4 linked regions of the Homo sapiens genome follow. The protein of the gene in region 2 purifies or fractionates together with the protein of the main gene of each other region. This does not show direct contact. Each region holds a gene or a part of one and is shown on either strand. Other genes may lie near its edges.

Evidence for each region. Proteins that work in one complex are often made in the same cells at the same time.
Region 1: the proteins of RAD23B (region 2) and CORO1C purify together in Homo sapiens (affinity purification with western blotting; 2 studies listed by BioGRID, with this or other methods). This does not show direct contact.
Region 3: the proteins of RAD23B (region 2) and PSMC6 fractionate together in Homo sapiens (co-fractionation; 4 studies listed by BioGRID and IntAct, with this or other methods). This does not show direct contact.
Region 4: the proteins of RAD23B (region 2) and POU5F1 purify together in Homo sapiens (affinity purification with western blotting; 2 studies listed by BioGRID, with this or other methods). This does not show direct contact.

What each region holds. Positions count from the first base shown.
Region 1 is NC_000012.12:108,650,981-108,655,647, forward strand, and holds part of CORO1C (coronin-1C), read right to left. Parts: intron 3,431-4,667; coding exon 3,326-3,430; intron 1,438-3,325; coding exon 1,292-1,437; intron 1-1,291. UniProt on the Homo sapiens protein: Plays a role in directed cell migration by regulating the activation and subcellular location of RAC1. Increases the presence of activated RAC1 at the leading edge of migrating cells.
Region 2 is NC_000009.12:107,299,414-107,304,080, forward strand, and holds part of RAD23B (UV excision repair protein RAD23 homolog B), read left to right. Parts: intron 1-727; coding exon 728-809; intron 810-2,621; coding exon 2,622-2,701; intron 2,702-4,667. UniProt on the Homo sapiens protein: Multiubiquitin chain receptor involved in modulation of proteasomal degradation. Binds to polyubiquitin chains.
Region 3 is NC_000014.9:52,716,571-52,721,237, forward strand, and holds part of PSMC6 (26S proteasome regulatory subunit 10B), read left to right. Parts: intron 1-1,510; coding exon 1,511-1,572; intron 1,573-1,658; coding exon 1,659-1,782; intron 1,783-2,406; coding exon 2,407-2,468; intron 2,469-4,290; coding exon 4,291-4,411; intron 4,412-4,539; coding exon 4,540-4,620; intron 4,621-4,667. UniProt on the Homo sapiens protein: Component of the 26S proteasome, a multiprotein complex involved in the ATP-dependent degradation of ubiquitinated proteins.
Region 4 is NC_000006.12:31,167,345-31,172,779, reverse strand, and holds the start of POU5F1 (POU domain, class 5, transcription factor 1), read left to right. Parts: upstream 1-2,097; 5' UTR 2,098-2,159; coding exon 2,160-2,564; intron 2,565-5,435. UniProt on the Homo sapiens protein: Transcription factor that binds to the octamer motif (5'-ATTTGCAT-3'). Forms a trimeric complex with SOX2 or SOX15 on DNA and controls the expression of a number of genes involved in embryonic development such as YES1, FGF4, UTF1 and ZFP206.

The DNA of each region.
Region 1 (4,667 bases), on a different chromosome or scaffold from region 2:
CGGAGTCTCGCTGTGTTGCCCAGGCTGGAGTGCAGTGGCACCATCTCGGCTCACTCCGCCTCCTGGGTTCAAGTGATTCTCCTGACTCTGCCTCCCAATTAGCTGGGATTACAGGCACCCACGACCACACATAGCAAATTTTTTATTTTTAGTAGAGATTAATATAAAAAAGGGGCTTATAAAAATTCTCTTCCTTTTATTTGGAAGACGTAAGTATCAATTCTTTAATTGTGAGACCAGAACAGCAAGCGTTTTAAAAGTCCACATAAACACAGTGTTACACAAATGTTTGGTACGACCTTATATGTGATGATGTAGTGCTAATTATTCTGTTGTTTGAAATGGCCAGTGGTCACTGAGTCTCAGAGGATATATTTGTTGACTAGCATGAGAAAAAAGCCTGTCCCTTAGGAAGCCTGCTAGCATTTAGAATATGAATTTTCTAAAAATCAGAAGTAGTACAGAGAGGTAGAAATTATATCATAGCTGAACTTCCTAAATCAAGCTAACCTACCGCCCCATTATAGGACCTTTGGTTTCTCTATTTTAGGACCAGTGGGGCCCCAAATACAGTTTTGACTCTGGTTCTTCCACTCATAGGGTAGGAAAACCACCCACTTTTCCATCCCCGAGCCAGGCTCTCCCTACTTGCCCACCAGGGAACGCTGACCATGGCCTCAGCTTGAAGATTAAAGATGCATGTTTCACTATTTCAGTAGGTGTGCAATACACCCCAGCTATGCTGCTTCATTGTTGCACTTCAGTTATATGGGCAGGAAATGAGGTATTAATTCCACAGTACACACAAGGATAGAAAGACTTGGGCTTCATAGAATTTCTTGTAGCTGTATTGCTCTGGTATCACCAGGCATTCAGGTGATGATAAAAAGTGAGATGTGCCGGGTGTGGTGGTGGGCGCCTGTAATCCCAGCTACTTGGAAGGCTAAGGCAGGAGAATTGCTTGAACCAGGGAGGCGGAGGTTGCAGTGAGCTGAGATCACACCACTGCACTCCTGCCTGGGCAACAGAGCCAGACTCCGTCTCAAAAAAAAAAAAGTGAGATTTTTTTCTTTTCTTTTTTTTTTTTTTTTGAGATTTTTTTCTAATGAAGAAACTCAGTTTTAGTGATATCCTTAGAAAGTGCCATCTCATGGCAATGTGTACAATTCTACTACTTTCTTGCTCAGAATGGTCAGATATTTTTGAGATCTGAAGTATATGCTAGTCCAAGTACAAATAATTGTCACACAGTTACACCAACCTAGAATACTTGACAATCTCGATTCTTTACCTGGCAATCTCACATTTGTTAACATCAAGTCCCCTCTTGGGCATGTAACCCATCCCTCTCTGAGGCTCCTTGCTGCTGAATGTGTTGAGGTAGTGGACGTACGGGGATTCATCCGTGATCTCAAAATAGCGAATACTGCTGTCACCCTGTAAGAAACCAGAGACAAGTCTGTGTCTGATTGTTAACTGAAACATCTGGATTATGGGGGTGTCTCTCTCCTCTACAAACCCAGCAGTAGTTGGGACCCCGCTTCAGTAGCTGACCTTTTCTTCCTCATAAAGAGGCTTGCCTAAAGCATATAAAAGTTTCTTTTCCTCACAAAGTAACCCCTTACTTATCAAATGCTAGCATGCCTTTTAAGTGGTCTCCTCAGCCTCCTGGCTCCTGGCTCTAATTTTACTCCCCTGAGCCTAGGCACCAGGCCAGGGTTAGGGCAAAAATGTTAATGCCTCTGCCAAACAGCTACATTGCAATTCAACTGTGAAAAACAAACAAACAAACAAAGACTAAGAGGACTGCTGAGAATGCAATTATTGATTTAAGTATTCATTTACTGGCATAACGCAATGCTGTTATGCCAGTATGATGATAAAAAGTGAGATTTTTCTAATGAAGAAACTCAGTTTTAGTGAGTATCCTCAGAAAGTGCCATCTCATGGCAATGTGTACAATTCTACTACTTTCTTGCTTAGAATAGTCAGATATCTTTGAGTACTGAAGCATATGTTAGTCTAAGTACAAATAATTGTCACACAGTTACACCAACCTGAACAATGACGGCAATCTTGTCTGGCAGAGAGGAGATATACATATATGTAAGAAAGAAGAAGGCAAAAATAGCTAGGTGGTATCATGCCTCAACAGTGCTCCCAGTTCTCATGATTTCCATTTGTCTCAATGACTGAGATATCTAAAGCAATGGAAAAGAAGCTAAACCCTTACTAGTCATTTCTGCATGCCCAAAAGAATTTTCCATCTCATGTTACTAATATCTGAGTAACTGCTCATTTTGTTTGTTTTAATTCAGTCAAGGGCAACAACAGCAAGGTAAATGCACTTAACACCTGTTAACATCTGCAGTAAAATGGCTTTCAAGGAAACAGACAAGATCTCCATTTCTAAAACAATGACCTATAAAAATGTAAAGCAGGTCTGCAGCATGCTCAATCAGCTATGAAAAGCAAACACCAGCTTTACCACCCAGTGAAGGGCTATCTAACAGGTCTAGGGACTACCTCAACAGCTCCACTGTTATTAATTCATTTATTTCAACTACAAAAAGTTCTAAGGGAAATTGAGCCTACAAGAAAAAAAAGGGAACTATAAGGTTCCCACTTACAAAAATGAAATAATAAAGCTACCCACAGTCTAGGTATGCTGAGCTCATAAGGCAGGAGGAAGGTTTTTGGAGTTCAGTGTGGAGTCTCCCTATAACTGTTATCACCCCTGAGCTTTAGTCAGGCCTCATATCTTCAAGCCCAGAGCCCTAGCACTGAACCCCAGGAACAAGAACCCTCTGGAGAGTCTCTGAGGCCCTCAAAAGTTTGCATCCACAAAGCACCATTCTCCTTCCAAGTCCATGGTGTGTGGTACTAAGTATACACATGCTCATCTAGGGTTATCCAACAAATTTCAGCATTAGATGTGGCCAACTGGTTGCCCATCCCTGACATAAGTACAGATAAATCTAAAATCACCAATCAGGTAGCACTGCTAGGTGAAGATGAAACACCAGTGTATCTTCTTTTTTTCACAAGAGCGCCCTGATTGGAGCATTTTCCCCAATACCCCAGCCCAACCTCTGCTTCAGTCAAAAGTATGCAACATGGCGTGTTATCACTGCACAACTGGCAAGCTGCACACAGTCCAGTCTCAAGACCTAAAAATACCAAATTATCTGTCCTTGGCTTATAACATACACACACAAATTAGAAAAATTAAACAGATACAACACATTGCCCGTCCTCTAAATCTCTGAAGGATAAATGTTTCCACTTACAGGATTTAACACCAAACATCAAAATTACTGTTTACCTTTCCACATAAGTAAATGATGCTGGTGTCAGGGTCATAGAAAGGCAGCAACACCCCATTGCTAGTGTCCATCTCATGAAGAGCAATTGGTTCCTGCATATTTTTCTGGGGGGAAGATAATAATAATACATATATGTGTATGTATACATTTTTTTAAAAATAAATTTTTATAACCTTATTATATATTCTTCTATCCCAATTAAGCGAGCCATTTTCCTAGAATAACAGAAGTTTGAACTATGCACATACAATACTCATACATGGAAACAGCAACAGGGATGCTAAATGAGATCCAACTCACAAAATTTCACTGATTTGACAACATAATGCGCGCATACATCAGCGTGATTTCATGACAATGATGAGAAAGCCCTTCTCCTTTGTTACTGTTTTCTTTTTCTTTTTTTTTTTTTTAAAGACTGAGTCTCCCTCTGTCGCCCAGGCTGGAGTGCAGTAGTGCTATCTCGGCTCACTGCAATCTCCGCCTCCCAAGTTCAAGCGATTTTCCTGCCTCAGCCTGGCAAGAGCTGGGATTATAGATAGGCACATGCCACCACCCGTGGCTAATTTTTGTATTTTTAGTAGACACAGAGTTTCACCATGTTGGCCAGGCTGGTCTCCAACTCCCAGCCTCAAGTGATCCAGCCACCTCAGCCTCCCAAAGTGCTGGGATTACAGGAATGGCCACTGCGCCTACCCTATTTTATTTTTTTAAAGTACTTCTTTAATTATAAAATATGTGTGCTTTTAAAAAGTTGAAAGATATAAAAAAGAACATAAAAATCATTCCATCAAAATCCTACAGCCCAGTGGGTGACAGAAGCTATTATCATTTTGATCTATTTCCTTCCGACACATGTACACAGAGATTGAGATGATAGAATGTATGTTGTATTTTTCCCCACTTAAGCTAATTATGAACATTTTCCCAAGCATGACTATTTTGATTTAGACAACTGATCATATTATTTATGAAATATGAACTTATTTTCCAAATCCAAAACACTAGATTCTTCATTCTTTTTAAAAAATATAGTCCCCTCCCTCTCCCCTTCCCCCTCCCCCTCCCCCTCTCCCTCTCCCCACGGTCTCCCTCTCCCTCTCTTTCCACGCTCTCCCTCTGATGCCGAGCCGAAGCTGGACGCTGCCATCTCGACTCACTGCAACCTCCCTGCCTGATTCTCCTGCCTCAGCCTGCTGAGTGCCTGCGATTGCAAGCGCGCACCGCCACGCCTGACTGGTTTTCGTATTTTTTTGGTGGAGACGGGGTTTCGCTGTGTTGGCGGGGCTGGTCTCCAGCTCCTGACCACGAGTAATCCGCCAGCCTCGGCCTCCCGAGGTG
Region 2 (4,667 bases):
GTAAATACTGTATAATGAGCCTAATTGTCACACAATTTTAGGAAATGAAGAGACTATAAAGGTCATGGATTCCAGCTCCTCTTACAGATGAATGAAGCTGATGCTGAGAGAAGCTAAGCTGCTTGTTTAAGAGCATTGAAGTTGTCTGGAGGTTTTCAGCCTGGGCTGAACTTTGGAAACACCTGTAAAACTTTTTAAAAATACTGATGTCAAGGTCCCACTCTCAGAGATTATGTTTTAATTGGTGTTTGTAAAGTCCCCCTGGTGATTGTAATGAAACATAACACTTAAAATGAATCATTTGCCTTTTAACATTCACAATTTAACCTTTAACATTGAAGTATTCTTATTGTTGATGAGACTGTTTTATTTCTTAGATTTTTTAGGTGATCAAGCTTTACTTTCTTGCTCCGTGGGAAATAAACCCATGAACAGTATATAAACCAAAACTTTGATGTTGAAAACTTTATTTTAAATTATCAGTTCAACTAGTAAATTTTTAAAAATCTGTGTGTATCAGATGGTGTTAAAGTTTATGGCTATCATAACTAGTAATATGAGTTAATGTTGAATCTTTTTTGATATAAATTGGAAAAACATAATATTTGAGGTTTTGGAAACATTAATAATTATGTATATAATTTTTGTCTTCCATTATTTATTCAGATTCTGGATTGTCATTTTTTATTTAGACTTTTTCCAAAACAAATCTTTATTTTTCCTATAGGTGAAAGCACTGAAAGAGAAGATTGAATCTGAAAAGGGGAAAGATGCCTTTCCAGTAGCAGGTCAAAAATTAATTTATGCAGGTATGAATTAAATATTAAAATTAACATGCCATGTCTTGATATTCTTTTAGTTTTAGAAATGTTATCTTATATATTGTAGTATATTCAAATTGTCAGAAAAATGATTGTACAAATAAAAGCAGTGAAAGAGCAGTCATTTGAATCTAATATTAATATTCAATCTTCTCTTTATTCACATTTGCCCTGTGTATTTTTCCATCAAATGGTATTAGTTTTGTTTTATCTTTTGTAAGCATCGTGTAACTGGCTTTTGTTTTTTTAATCAAACGGAGCTTTTTTTTTTAAATTGAATTGAAACCATTTATACTGATTGTGTTATTATTAGTATGCTTGGAATCATTCCTGTAAAATTATTTTAACCAAAACTAACTGAAGAGTACAGAAAAAACACATCACACAGACACCTACAGGAAGAAAAAAAATTAATATTCAGATTATGTAAAGAATTCTTAGAAATCAGTAAGGAAAGGATGACCAATAAAGCAACAAAGGATAAGAGTAGGAATTATACATTTGACTAGCCTCACTAATAACCAGGAAAATGTATATTAAAAATACATTTGATATCCAAATTTTTAGAGAAAATGCTTTCATTGTAGATGTTAGTAAGGTGGGTGTTTGATCACCCATGGATTCTTCTCTTTTTCTGAATAGTGTTTCCTAAAGTGAGACAGCCTGGAGGAAATGCTAACCTGGTGATTCAGTCCCATTATTTTTATAGGTCAGAATTCAGAAGCCTAAAGAAGCGGACATAAAATTCAAATTTCCAGTTTCTTGTTTTGGCCTGTTTTCTCATTCCTATCCATATTCCTTTCTGACTTAATGTTAGCAGCTTTTGATTCAATAGCTTTTTAAAGGTGGAAAACTAAATTCATGTAGCAAGAAACACTAGAGAGTCCTAGCTACCTAATAGTGACCTTCAGCACGACCACAGTTTTGTGTACTTCGTGCATTTCTAAGTTCTGTAGCATCTTGCCCTTTCTTGTGTATCATGTCGTTTTCTGAAGTACTTTTAGTATCTTGCTTTGATAGTGTTAGAACATTTCTGATTTATCAGATATCAGTATTTTGGGGAGCAGGAAATTTGTTTCTCTCCCTTTCTTCATATCATAAAAGAATATAGGTTATTTTCCAGAGGACCCCTGTGCAATCGGAGTATTGAATTTTCTTTATCTTCATGATCTCCTCCTTTTCAGGGCCTCTTTCATATTTCCTTGCCCAGTAAGTCTTTTATATAATCAATACATTTGTAAAAATTGATTGTCATTCTATATACACTATATAAGTTTGACATCTTTTAGTCAAATGCTTATGCTTTTTAGTTTTATTTGTTTGAGAGAGGGTCTTGCTCTGTCACCCAAGCTGGAGTGCAGTGGTGTGATTATACTCGCTGTATCCTTGAACTCCTGAGCTCAGGTGATCCTCCTGCCTCAGCCTCCCAAGTAGCTAGGACCATAGGCATGTGCCACAATGCCTGGCTAATTTTGAATTTTTTTTTTTCATAAACAGGGTCTTGCTATGTTGGCCATGCTGGTTTCAAACTCCTGGCCTCAAGCTATATTTCCTCCTCAGCCTACCAAAGTGTTGGGATTACAGGTGTGAGCCACCATGCCCTGCCACTTAGGAGTTGTTTTATTTTTATCTTGATTGATTGGTTTTTCTTTGGGAAAAGTATTAACTGATAGAATTTATGTTGGTGATTCATATTTTAATATTTCTGAAATATTCATATTTCGAGTAGAAAGTTGTTTTAACTGAAGTGTAAGAGAAAGATTATGCCTTAAATGATTTTTTTTTCTCTTAATGTATTAGGCAAAATCCTCAATGATGATACTGCTCTCAAAGAATATAAAATTGATGAGAAAAACTTTGTGGTGGTTATGGTGACCAAAGTAAGTTTCAACCTCATTCTGTATATCTTTATGCATGTAGGTCTTTTTAAAAATGATGATCACAAGTCCACACAATGGACACAGTTTATACACATCCATAGTGGTGTACACTTAACTACTATGAAAGGTTTTTAAGAATTTACCTTAAGTGAAACATAAAGTTATTAATGTTTTACATTAATTACACATTAAACTATAATATAGTTTTAATAAAATTTTATGTAAATTAAAACAATTGAAAAATAAAATGTCATGTTAAAATTATTTTTGCTACAGTAGTGAAATCATTATATAATTCTTTTAAAATGTCTTTATAAGTGGAATAAATGTTTATTCTGTAGTTTTTGTAAGCTTGCCTTAAATAGACCTGCTAAATTACGTACTAGTCCTAACAGATTCCTCAAGACAGAAAAGGCATGAAAGCTTATTATTACAGTGATAGTTCTTAGTGAAAGAATATGTTTTTAGAAACTAAAAAAAGGGAAAAGATAACTAAAGAAATGATGGAATGATTTTTATGAGGAAGTTTTTTTTGTTTTTGTTTTGTTTTTTTTTTTTTGAGACGGAGTCTCGCTCTGTTGCCCAGGCTGGAGCGCAGTGACGCTGTCTTGGCTCACTACAAGCTCTGTCTCCCGGGTTCATGCCATTCTCCTGCCTCAGCCTCCCTAGTAGCTGGGACTACAGGCGCATGCCACCACGCCCGGCTAATTTTTTTGTATTTTTAGTAGAGACAGGGTTTCACCGTGTTAGCCAGGATGGTCTCGATTTCCTGACCTCGTGATCCGCCCGCCTCGGCCTCCCAAAGTGCTGGGATTACAGGCGTGAGCCACCGCGCCCAGCCTGGAAGTTTTAAACAGATACTTTTTTGTGATTTAGTAGGCTGGAATGTATTTGGAACAATTTATAAAATTAAATTTTTTTTAAAGCAGAGAATGAACATGGATTTTTTTAAGAGACTATTTATATACTTGTTTATTTAAAGATATATAATGCAGTGTAGAATTAAGAGACAAATGGAGAAGTGGTACTCATGACATTCATTTTTAGGATTGGATTGTCATAATCTGAGAAAGAACAGTGTTACTTGTAGCACTGAAAATGAGTTTAAATCACTAATTGAAACCACTTCATCAAAGGCCAAAAGTGGATTAAATGTGGGTTTTTTCTCAAAGTCACAAAATAGTTAATAGTAATAGAAAATAGAGTCGAAGAAATAAATTCTAATTACCACATGCTTTTGTACTGGGAGCAAGCAGCTAAATAGTTTACAAGTGTTGAACATTTTTTAATTCATTAAGAACCATGTTGATTTTGCTATACTTAAGAACTTAAGTCATTATATGTTAAGTTTAAAAACAAGCAGAATCGTGAGGAAACCTTGTATCATCTAGGTTTTTTTATTCAACTGTGGTAAAATATAACAAACTTCCAGTTTAATCATTTTAAGTGTACAGTTCAATAACATTATAGTTACATTGTTTTGCAGCTATCACCATCATATAAGTGGAATCCTATGGTATTTGTCTTTTTGTGACTGGCTTATTTCACTTAGCATAATGTCATTGAGGTTCATCTGTCTATGTTATAGCTTGTGCCAGAATTTGCTGAACTTTTAAGACTGAATACTATCCTATTTTCCTATCTAGTTTTAGCATACATAGTACATAATGGGAAATGTGATAGCCACACATTTAAATATGTTTTGTTACTGGTCTTAGTTTCTTTTAATATTACAGTGATCCTGACTGTTTAGAACACAAGAATTAAGCAGAAAAAGTCTCAATAGGTGCGTGTGTTTGAGGAATAGATACTTGAAGCCTATCATTATATTGCATACAGTCCTTTTGTTTTTCCTTAAAGTCTTTTATTCCTAATATTACATAGGATTCTAATGATATTTATGATTGTTTTATTTGAAGTTAATAGAGGACAACTATGAAAAGGGAGGGAATGCTGCTACAGTAAG
Region 3 (4,667 bases), on a different chromosome or scaffold from region 2:
TGGAGAAACCCCGTCTCTGCTGAAAATACAAAATTAGCTGGGTGTAGTAGTTCATGCCTGTAATCCCAGCTACTCGGGAGGCAGAGGCAGGAGAATCACTTGAACCTGGGAGGCAGAGGTTGCAGTGAGCTGAGATCATGCCATTGCACTCCAGCCTGGGCAACAAGAGTGAAACTCCATCTCAAAAAAAAAAGAAAAAGAAATGTGGTAAATACACACATTGGAATACTATTCAGCCTTAAAAAAGGAAACTCTGTCATTTGTGACAATATGGATGAATCTAGAGGATGTTATACTAAGTGAAATAAGCCAGACACAGAAAGACAGTTACCACATAATCTCATTTTCATGTGGAATCTTAAAAAATTGAACTCGTAGAAACCAAGAGTAGAATGGTGGTTACCAGAAGTTGTGGTGGTGTATGGGGATAGGGGAGATGTTGGTCAAAGGATATAAAGTTCACTTAGACAGGAGGAATAAGTTCTAGGTGACATATTGCATAGCATGGTGACTATAATTAATAATGTATTAGCTATTTCAAAATTGCTAAAAGTAGATTTTAAATGTTCTAACCACAAAGTAATGCTAAGCATGTGAGGTGATGGATATGTTGATTTGCCTGATTTAATCATTCTTCAATATATACATGTATCATAATTTAACCCATAAATATACAATTTATTTGTCAATTTAAAATAGATTTTAAAAATTATAACATTTTGATTAAAATTTTAATGTTGACAGCAGAAGTACTTTGGAATTTTTTTTTTTTTTTTTTTTTTGAGACAGAGTCTTGCTCTGTCACCCAGGCTGGAGTGCAGTGGCGAGATTATAAGCTCACTGCAACCCCCACCTCCCGGATTCAAGCGATTCTCCTGCCTCAGCCTCCCCAGTAGGTGGGACTACAGGCATGTGCCACCACGCTCAGCTAATTTTTTGTATTTTTAGTAGAGACGGGGTTTCACTGTGTTTCGATCTCCTGACCCTGTGATCTGCCCGCCTCAGCCTCCCAAAGTGCTGGGATTACAGGTGTGAGCCACCACACCTGGCCAAGTACTTTGGAATTTTAAATGAAAATTCTATTTAGGATTTAGCTTTCATTTTGGAAAATTTACTTGCCAAACGATTATATTCTTAAAAGGATTTTAAAAATTTGTTTCACATAGGCCGGGTGCGGTGGCTCCTGCCTGTAATCCCAGCACTTTGGGAGGCTGAAGTGGCAGGATCACCTGAGCCCAAGAGTTCAAGACCAGCCTGCGCAACACAGAGAGACCCCGTCTCTGAAAAACAAACAGACAAACAAAAAACTTAGCTGTGCGTGATGGCACATGCCTGTCATCCCAGCTACTTGGGAGGCTGAGGTGGGAAAATCGCTTAGGTCTGGGAGGTCAAGGTTGCAGTGAGCTGTGATCTCGCCACACTCCAGCCTAGGTGACAGAGTGATTGCCTGTCTCAAAACAAATTTTTTTCTACCTTACCATCTAATTAAGACTTCTTTTGTCATTCTTAGGTACGGGAAAAACACTCTTGGCACGAGCCGTTGCTAGCCAGCTGGACTGCAATTTCTTAAAGGTAAAGGGAAGATTATTTTGTACTTATTGAAATTTAATTTTACTTGAATTATCTTATATTTACCTTACTGTTTTTCCTTTAATCAGGTTGTATCTAGTTCTATTGTAGACAAGTACATTGGTGAAAGTGCTCGTTTGATCAGAGAAATGTTTAATTATGCTAGAGATCATCAACCATGCATCATTTTTATGGATGAAATAGATGCTATTGGTAAGAATAACACCCTTGTTGAAAGTTTTAGGACTTTTTTTTAAATGTAAAAGAACCTTTTTCCCTCTCTTAATCTGTAATTGTGACTTGTATGAAGTAGATACCACAATGAATCAGATGTTAGTTTAACCAATTTTAATAAATAACCTTTCATGGCCGGGTGTGGTGGCTCATGCCTGTAATCCCAGCACTTTGAGAGGCCAAGGTGGGCAGATCACCAGGTCAGGAGATCGAGACCATCTGGCCAACATGGTGAAACCCTGTCTCTACTAAAAATACAAAAATTAGCTGGATGTGGTGGCACATGCCTGTAATCCCAGCTACTGAGGAGGCTGAGGCACGAGAATCGCTTGAACCCAGGAGACGTAGGTTGCAGTGAGCCGAGATCACACCACTGCACTCCAGCCTGGCGACAGAGCGAGACTCCGTCTCAATAAATAACCTTTCACTTTAACAAAATGAGAAATGTTACACCAAAATCAAGTCTAACTTTGTCAGCATAATTCTTGCTCTTTAATTTTCATCTTAATGTTTTAAGCCACAGACTGTTATGTTCTGTTTTCTTAAATGATGGTTGTAGAGGAAAAGAGTAATGCATATAAATTTCCAAATCTACTATCTTAGGTGGTCGTCGGTTTTCTGAGGGTACTTCAGCTGACAGAGAGATTCAGAGAACGTTAATGGAGGTAATATTTGGTAAAGGGGGTTTATAAAGAAACCAATGTTTATTAAATGAAGAACTGAACATTGCATATTTGATAGTCAAAATATATAGAACATTTTAAATGAAATATGAAATTTGAAAATATTGTCAGGAACAAACATGTTTCTCTATCACAAACTCTAAGAAAATGACTACTGGAAAATAAGGCTATCTGCCAAATTCCATTTGGTATACACCTGTACTATTCTGTGTTTTTTTGAGTAGATCAGTCATTCATATATTTAAATTCTTATGAATGTGATCTTGCGGTAGTTTTATGAAGACATTTTTTGTAATGGTCATATTAAGACTGTTGGCAATAAATGAGCTATAATTATGTATGAAGCTGCTCTAAAAATTATTTTTTTCTCTCACTTTATTGCTGAGACTGAGGCAACTAAAATAGTTTTGATAATTGAAGAGGATAGATGACAGAATGAAAGAATGCACATAAAGCCTTCCTCCAGTTTTACCTTTCCCCACTCCAAATTCTGTGAAAGTGATATCAAGAGTCCAAATACATTTTCCACTTCAAATAGAAACTAGGTAGCATGGGTAATGCAGTGTCAAATTCTTTCTCCTTAGAAGTATTTGAAAAATCTTTTTTCATAAATTATACAGATCCGCTCAGAAGATAACATAGCATTTGGAAATTATAAAATCTCTTAGAAACCTTAAATTGAGATATTTTTAAATAACACAAATACTCATTTTATTCAAGTAACTAATATATCATCAACTAACACATTGTCAGACTAGCTATATTTTAGAGAGTTTGTTAAATGCAGTAAGGTTTTTCATTTATTCAAGAAAACTTTAGAAATTGAGGACAATATTTTTTATGTCTTTTAGTATTTCTGTGTACAGTAGAATTATTTGAAAAAATAGGCCAGGCATGGTGGCTTCTGCCTGTAATCCCAGCACTTTGGGAGGCCCAGCTGGGCAGATCATGAGGTCTGAGCATTGAGACCAGCCTGACCAACGTAGCGAAACACCATCTCTAGTAAAGATACAAAAATTAGCTGGGCGTGGTGGCGTGTGCCTGTAATCCCAGTTACTCAGGAGGCTGAGGCAGGAGAATTGCTTGAACCCAGGAGGTGAGGTTGCAGTGGGCTGAGATCGCCCCATTGCACTCCAGCCTGGGTGACAGAGCGAGAGTCTGTCTCCAAAAAAAAAAAAAAAAAAAAAAGCAGTCCCAGCTACTCAGGAGGTTGAGGTGGGAGGACTGGTCGAGCCCAGGAGGTGAAGGTTGCAGTGAGCGATGATCAGGCCACAGTACTCCAGCCTGGGTGACAGAGTGAAACTCTGTCTCAAAAAAAAAAAAAAAAAAAAAAAAAAAAAATTATCAGTTTATTATCAAATTTGTAGAAAAATCTTTGTATCCATTTATCCTAATATAAATGTTATGTCTGACATATCATAAGCACTTTATATATTGGATTTTATTATTAGCTTTTCCTTTAAAAAATAATTGATGAAATTTTGGACATTGGAAATTAGATCCACATAGTTTAATTTCATAATTCTTGACATGATGGAAGCCTTCAGATTTATTAAAACTACCTGGTAGCTATAGAAAGATACATAGCTATTAAAAGGTACATAATCTAGCTTAGAACTTTGAGGCTAGAAAGTATATCCCTTTATATAAGAGAGAGAAAAAGAATTCTATCAAATGACCATTCTGAAGATAGAACATATCTATCTGTAGACAATACATTTCATGGCATTAGACATATAAAAGGTGTGTGCTATTTTTTTTAATGGTTAGAATTTTTGTAAAATCTGATTCTTAATATTCTTAGTTACTGAATCAAATGGATGGATTTGATACTCTGCATAGAGTTAAAATGATCATGGCTACAAACAGACCAGATACACTGGATCCTGCTTTGCTGCGTCCAGGAAGATTAGATAGAAAAATACGTGAGTTAAGATTCTTTACCTACTGTCCATTTCCCTTTGTGCCCATTTCTTTTTCCATACTTCACTTCACCTTCCACTGTATTTTAAAAAAGATAAAACTGGACTATAAAATAATTTTTTATTTTCAGATATTGATTTGCCAAATGAACAAGCAAGATTAGACATACTGAAAATCCATGCAGGTCCCATTACAAAGCATGGTGAAATAGGTAAGGAAGTCATCTATTTTATATGTATTTACATTTGGTAAATGAAG
Region 4 (5,435 bases), on a different chromosome or scaffold from region 2:
ACACCCATCCCCTTAGAAGGCAGATAGAGCCACTGACCCCAGCAGACAAGCCCAGGCAGGGCTGAGCCTGGAGCCTGCAATGAGAAGCCTTACTTAAGTCGACAGAGGTCAGCGTGCCCAGTCCAGACCTGGCCTTCTGGCCTTCGAAGCTGTGGGGAGCCCTGGCCCAGAGCCCCCTCTGGAGCCCCCAGACTTACCCCAGGCCCTCCACTGAGATCAAGTTTTGGGAGCAGACAGACAAACATCATCCCTCACAGACAGGCATTCCGTTGGCTATTCTCTTGCAAACAGAATCAAGCACTAGACCAGCAGCATGAGCCTCAGGATACTCAGGCCAGGCCCAGAAAAACAGACCCTGAAGGGGAGCTTAGGGCAGCCTTCCTGCACGCCTCCACAAATCACTCTCCACCTCCTCTGCGTCTTTCTGCCAGCCAGCCCCACTAAACAAAGCACATCCCTCAATCTGCCAGGCTCGGGGAGGGACGCACGATGAAGCTGGACGCCTGAGTCCCCCAGAGGAAGGAGGAACTAGATACCTAGGTCCCTGTGGGGGGCCCTTGGTGCCCGTCTGAGGCTCAGTCTTTGAGGGGATTGCAGAGGGGGGTTGCTGGAGCTCCTTTTAGCGTCTCTGAAGGGGATTCTGTGTGAGGGGATTGGGACTGGGGGGTTGGGGAGCAGGAAGCAGTCCCCAGGGGAGCCATCCAGGCCCATTCAAGGGTTGAGCACTTGTTTAGGGTTAGAGCTGCCCCCTCTGGGGACCGGGATTGTCCAGCCAAGGCCATTGTCCTGCCCCCTTCCCCCAGTCCCTCCCAGGCTTCTTTGAACCTGAAGTCAGATATTTTTTCTCCACACCCCCCACCCCCTGGTTTTCCCCACCCAGGGCCTAGGGCTGGAGGCCTGGGCCAGGGAGGTGGGGGAGGGAGAACGGGGCCTACCGTGGTATTAGATGTCTGAGTTTTGGTTGAGAGGGGAGCAAGGAACCTGATGTGCAGGTTCCATAGTGGAGGGGGCCCAAAGCGGGTGTCTTATCACTCTGTTTCAGCAAAGGTTGGGAAACTGAGGCCCAGTCAGTCCAAAGTCTGGTCCCTTGAAGGGGAAGTAGGGACCAACCCCTTAGTCTGTTAGATGAGGAGAGTCTGGAGTCTGATTCTGGAAGACGGAGGGGTGGGGGGATGGGGGGGTGGGGGGATATAGCACGGAGGCCTTGTCTGGCAGTCTACTCTTGAAGATGGGGTGAAATTTGGCAGGCTGGGCAGATGGTGCCAGGCACCCAGGCTGCGGGGTGGCTGGATTTGGCCAGTATCGGGATGGGAATGCCTAGGATTCTGGATGGATCGGGGGAAGGCATAAGGGAGCAGCTGGCCATTGTGCTTATGGCTGTTGATGCATTGAGGGATAGCGCCACACACACATTCAATAAATTTGAGGAGCTGAGAGGGTGACTGGCCCCTGAAGGCACAGTGCCAGAGGTCTGTGGAGAGGGGGTCAAGCACCTGGGTTCCTGAAGAACATGGAGGTGTGGGAGTGATTCCAGACAGCTGGGATGTGCAGAGCCTGAGAGAGTGCCAGGGAGCGGGTTGGGAGTTGAAAGTTGGGTGTGGTGGCTCACGCCTTTAATCATGACACTGGGCGGCAGAGGCGGGAGGATTTCTTGAGGACAGGAATTCAAGACCAGCCTGGGTAACATAGCAAGGCCCCATCTCTACTAAAAATAAAAAAACTAACAGGGCACAGTGGTCCAAGCCTGTAGTCCCAGCCACTTAGGAGGCTGGAGCAGAAGGATTGCTTTGGCCCAGTAGATCGAGGCTACATTGAGCCATCATTGTACTCCACTGCACTCCAGTCTGGGCAACAAAGTGAGACCCTGTCTTAAAAAATAAAAATAAAAAAAGTTTCTGTGGGGGACCTGCACTGAGGTCCTGGAGGGGCGCCAGTTGTGTCTCCCGGTTTTCCCCTTCCACAGACACCATTGCCACCACCATTAGGCAAACATCCTTCGCCTCAGTTTCTCCCCCCACCTCCCTCTCCTCCACCCATCCAGGGGGCGGGGCCAGAGGTCAAGGCTAGTGGGTGGGACTGGGGAGGGAGAGAGGGGTTGAGTAGTCCCTTCGCAAGCCCTCATTTCACCAGGCCCCCGGCTTGGGGCGCCTTCCTTCCCCATGGCGGGACACCTGGCTTCGGATTTCGCCTTCTCGCCCCCTCCAGGTGGTGGAGGTGATGGGCCAGGGGGGCCGGAGCCGGGCTGGGTTGATCCTCGGACCTGGCTAAGCTTCCAAGGCCCTCCTGGAGGGCCAGGAATCGGGCCGGGGGTTGGGCCAGGCTCTGAGGTGTGGGGGATTCCCCCATGCCCCCCGCCGTATGAGTTCTGTGGGGGGATGGCGTACTGTGGGCCCCAGGTTGGAGTGGGGCTAGTGCCCCAAGGCGGCTTGGAGACCTCTCAGCCTGAGGGCGAAGCAGGAGTCGGGGTGGAGAGCAACTCCGATGGGGCCTCCCCGGAGCCCTGCACCGTCACCCCTGGTGCCGTGAAGCTGGAGAAGGAGAAGCTGGAGCAAAACCCGGAGGAGGCAAGTGAGCTTCGACGGGGTTGGGGTGTGGGGAGGTGGTCATGACAGGGCAGCCTGATGGGGAAGTGGTCACCTGCAGCTGCCCAGACCTGGCACCCAGGAGAGGAGCAGGCAGGGTCAGCTGCCCTGGCCAGGGAGGGGTGTGTATCAACTGCTGGCAGCCCTGGCAGGCAGGGGCCAGGTGGGAAGTGGAAGCTGGATTTCGAAGAGACAACTGCCGGTGAGGGCAGAGCAGCCTGGGAGAGTCGGAAGCTGGCCCAGGCTGGCCTTTGCTCTGGCCCAGCCCTTGTCAGGGTCTCTCACATCTCCTAGGCCTGCCCAGGGTCTGGTCACTCATTACTGGCCCAGCACCAGACCCAGCTTGGGGTTGGTTTGAGCCCCTTTTCCCACCCTTAGTCCTGCTTGAAAATTTGACCCTTATCAGACCCAAGATTTTGGCCTTAGGGTTAAGCATAGCCTGAGGGTAAAAACAGTGCTCATTCCAGGATTATTGTTCCTGAAAGTCTAGGGTGTGACTCGTTTCTGATAGGATCTCCTGTTTGGGCTGTGTGTGTGCGCGTTGTGAGCTGGGTTTACCTCCAGTCAAGTATAGGGCTTGTCTTCCCCGGATCTCTGCCTCAGGCCAATGACTGGCCACTGTGTTAAGGTGCACACCCTGGCACCCCTTGTAGAAAGCTGGATTTTGATTGACTTCAGCCTCAGTTCCAAAGTTGTAAACAAGAAAAATGGTGAGAGATTTCTCCAGGCCATTTGCAAATATAGAGCTGCTGCGGGATTGAAGGCATCCAGCCCTGCTGAGGACTATTAAAGATGTATCTTCCAGTCCTTCAAGGCGACAAGTGTAAGCAATTAGAGATTAAATACTAAGCCTTGAGACCTCACAGAAAGGTGTGACTGGTTTCTGGAGTGACCGAGAAGCCCCAACCTCTTCGCAGGAGGTCACTGCTGAGCCTTGAATGATAATGGCTGGCAATTGTGGTCCACTTCCTAAGTGCCTGGCTGTGTGCTCCGTTTATACATCATTATCTCATTAACCAGCACAAAATCTCCTAGGGGGAGGTATTATTATCCTATTTAACGGGTTTTAACTGCTAAATGATGAAGCGAGGATTTGGACCAGTGTTTATTCCAAAACCCCAAAACAGAATTTGGAAAATCCAAGATAGCAGAGGGCATTTATCAGTTTGAGTTATTGGCTGAGCAGAAGTTGGGGATGAAAACAGCCTATTTGAAATTGATATGATCAAGCACCATTGAAACACTTCCTTGAGGCTTCAGAACTACAAAAAGGCCTTGTTTTTTTCTCACTAGCTGTGCACCTCTGTCTGCCGGCAGCCTCATATGGCATGCCCCAGGGCTCAGTCCTTCAACCTCTGCTCTATCTACCCTTCCTTCCTCTCACCCACCCTCAAGGCTTAAATGCCATTTAGACACCAGATGACTACCGCGTTTTCTGTCTCTTGTGATGGCTCCCTGAACTGCTCCACCCTGATCACCCAGTTGCTCAAGGCCAAACCCAGTCATCCTCAGTTTCTTTCATGTCCTACATCCTATCCTTAAGAAACATCCTGAATCAATCACAACCTAACCCTGGCCTCAGCCACCATCATCTCTGCTGGGATTACCGCAGTAGCTTCTCAAATTATACTGCTTCCTCCCTACTGTCTGTGGCCAACACGTCAACTAGAGTCAGTGTTTTAAAAGGTGTGGCCAGGCACTTTGGGAGGCCGAGGCAGGCGAATCACCTGAGGTCGGGAGTTCGAGTCCAGCCTGACCAACATGGCGAAACCCCATCTCTACTAAAAATACAAAATTAGCTGGGCGTGGTGACGCATGCCTGTAATCTCAGCTACTCAGGAAGCTGAGGCAGGAGAATCGCTTGAACCTGGGAGATGGAGGTTGCGGTGAGCCGAGATCGCGCCAGTGCACTCCAGCCTAGGCAACAAAAGCGAAACTCTCAAAAAAAAAAAAAAAAAAGGTGAGGCTAGGTGCGGTGGTTCACACCTGTAATCCCAGCACTTTGGGAGGCCAAGGTGGACAGATCACTTGAGGTCTCCTGACCAGCCTGGCCAACATGGTGAAACCCCATATCTACTAAAAATACAAAAATTAGCCGGGCATGGTGGTGGGTGCCTGTAGTCCCAGCTACTCAGGCGGCTGAGGCAGAATAGCTTGAACCCAGAAGGCGGAGATTGCAGTGAGCCAAGATCACGCCACAGCACTCCAGCCTGGGCGATAGAACGAGATTCCGTCTTGGTGGGGAGAAAAAGGGTGAGAGATCATTTCGCTTGGACTAAAACAAAGTCACTATGTCTGCAACAGGATCTACCTAGCCACCAGACCAGCTTTGGGCTCTGGAAGGCCCACTTCAGGGCCTTGCCACATTAGACTCTTGTCCTTTGCTCAAACAATCACCTTCTCTGTCTTTAAAAGTGTCACCCTCCTCCATAATCTCCTTCCCTCCTTTACCCTACTCCTATAGACTGCTTTATTTTTTTTTTAATTTTTGAGATGGAGTCTCACTCTGTCCCTCAGGCTGGAGTGCAGTGGTGCGATCTTGGCTCACTGCAAACTCCACCTCCTAGGTTCAAGCAATTCTCCTGCCTCAGCCTCCTGAGTAGCTGGGATTATAGGGGAGCGCCATGATGCCCAGCTAATTTTTGTATTTTTAGTAGAGACAGAGTCTCACTATGTTGACCAGGCTAGTCTTGAACTCCTGACCTCAAGTGATCTACCCACCTTGGCCTCCCAAAGTGAAGGGATTACAGGCATGACCACTGCGCCCAGACTGCTTTACTTTTTTCCATAATATATATATATATTTTAAATAGAGGCAGCAGGGGTGGGAGAAGGGGCGGCACGGGTCTCACT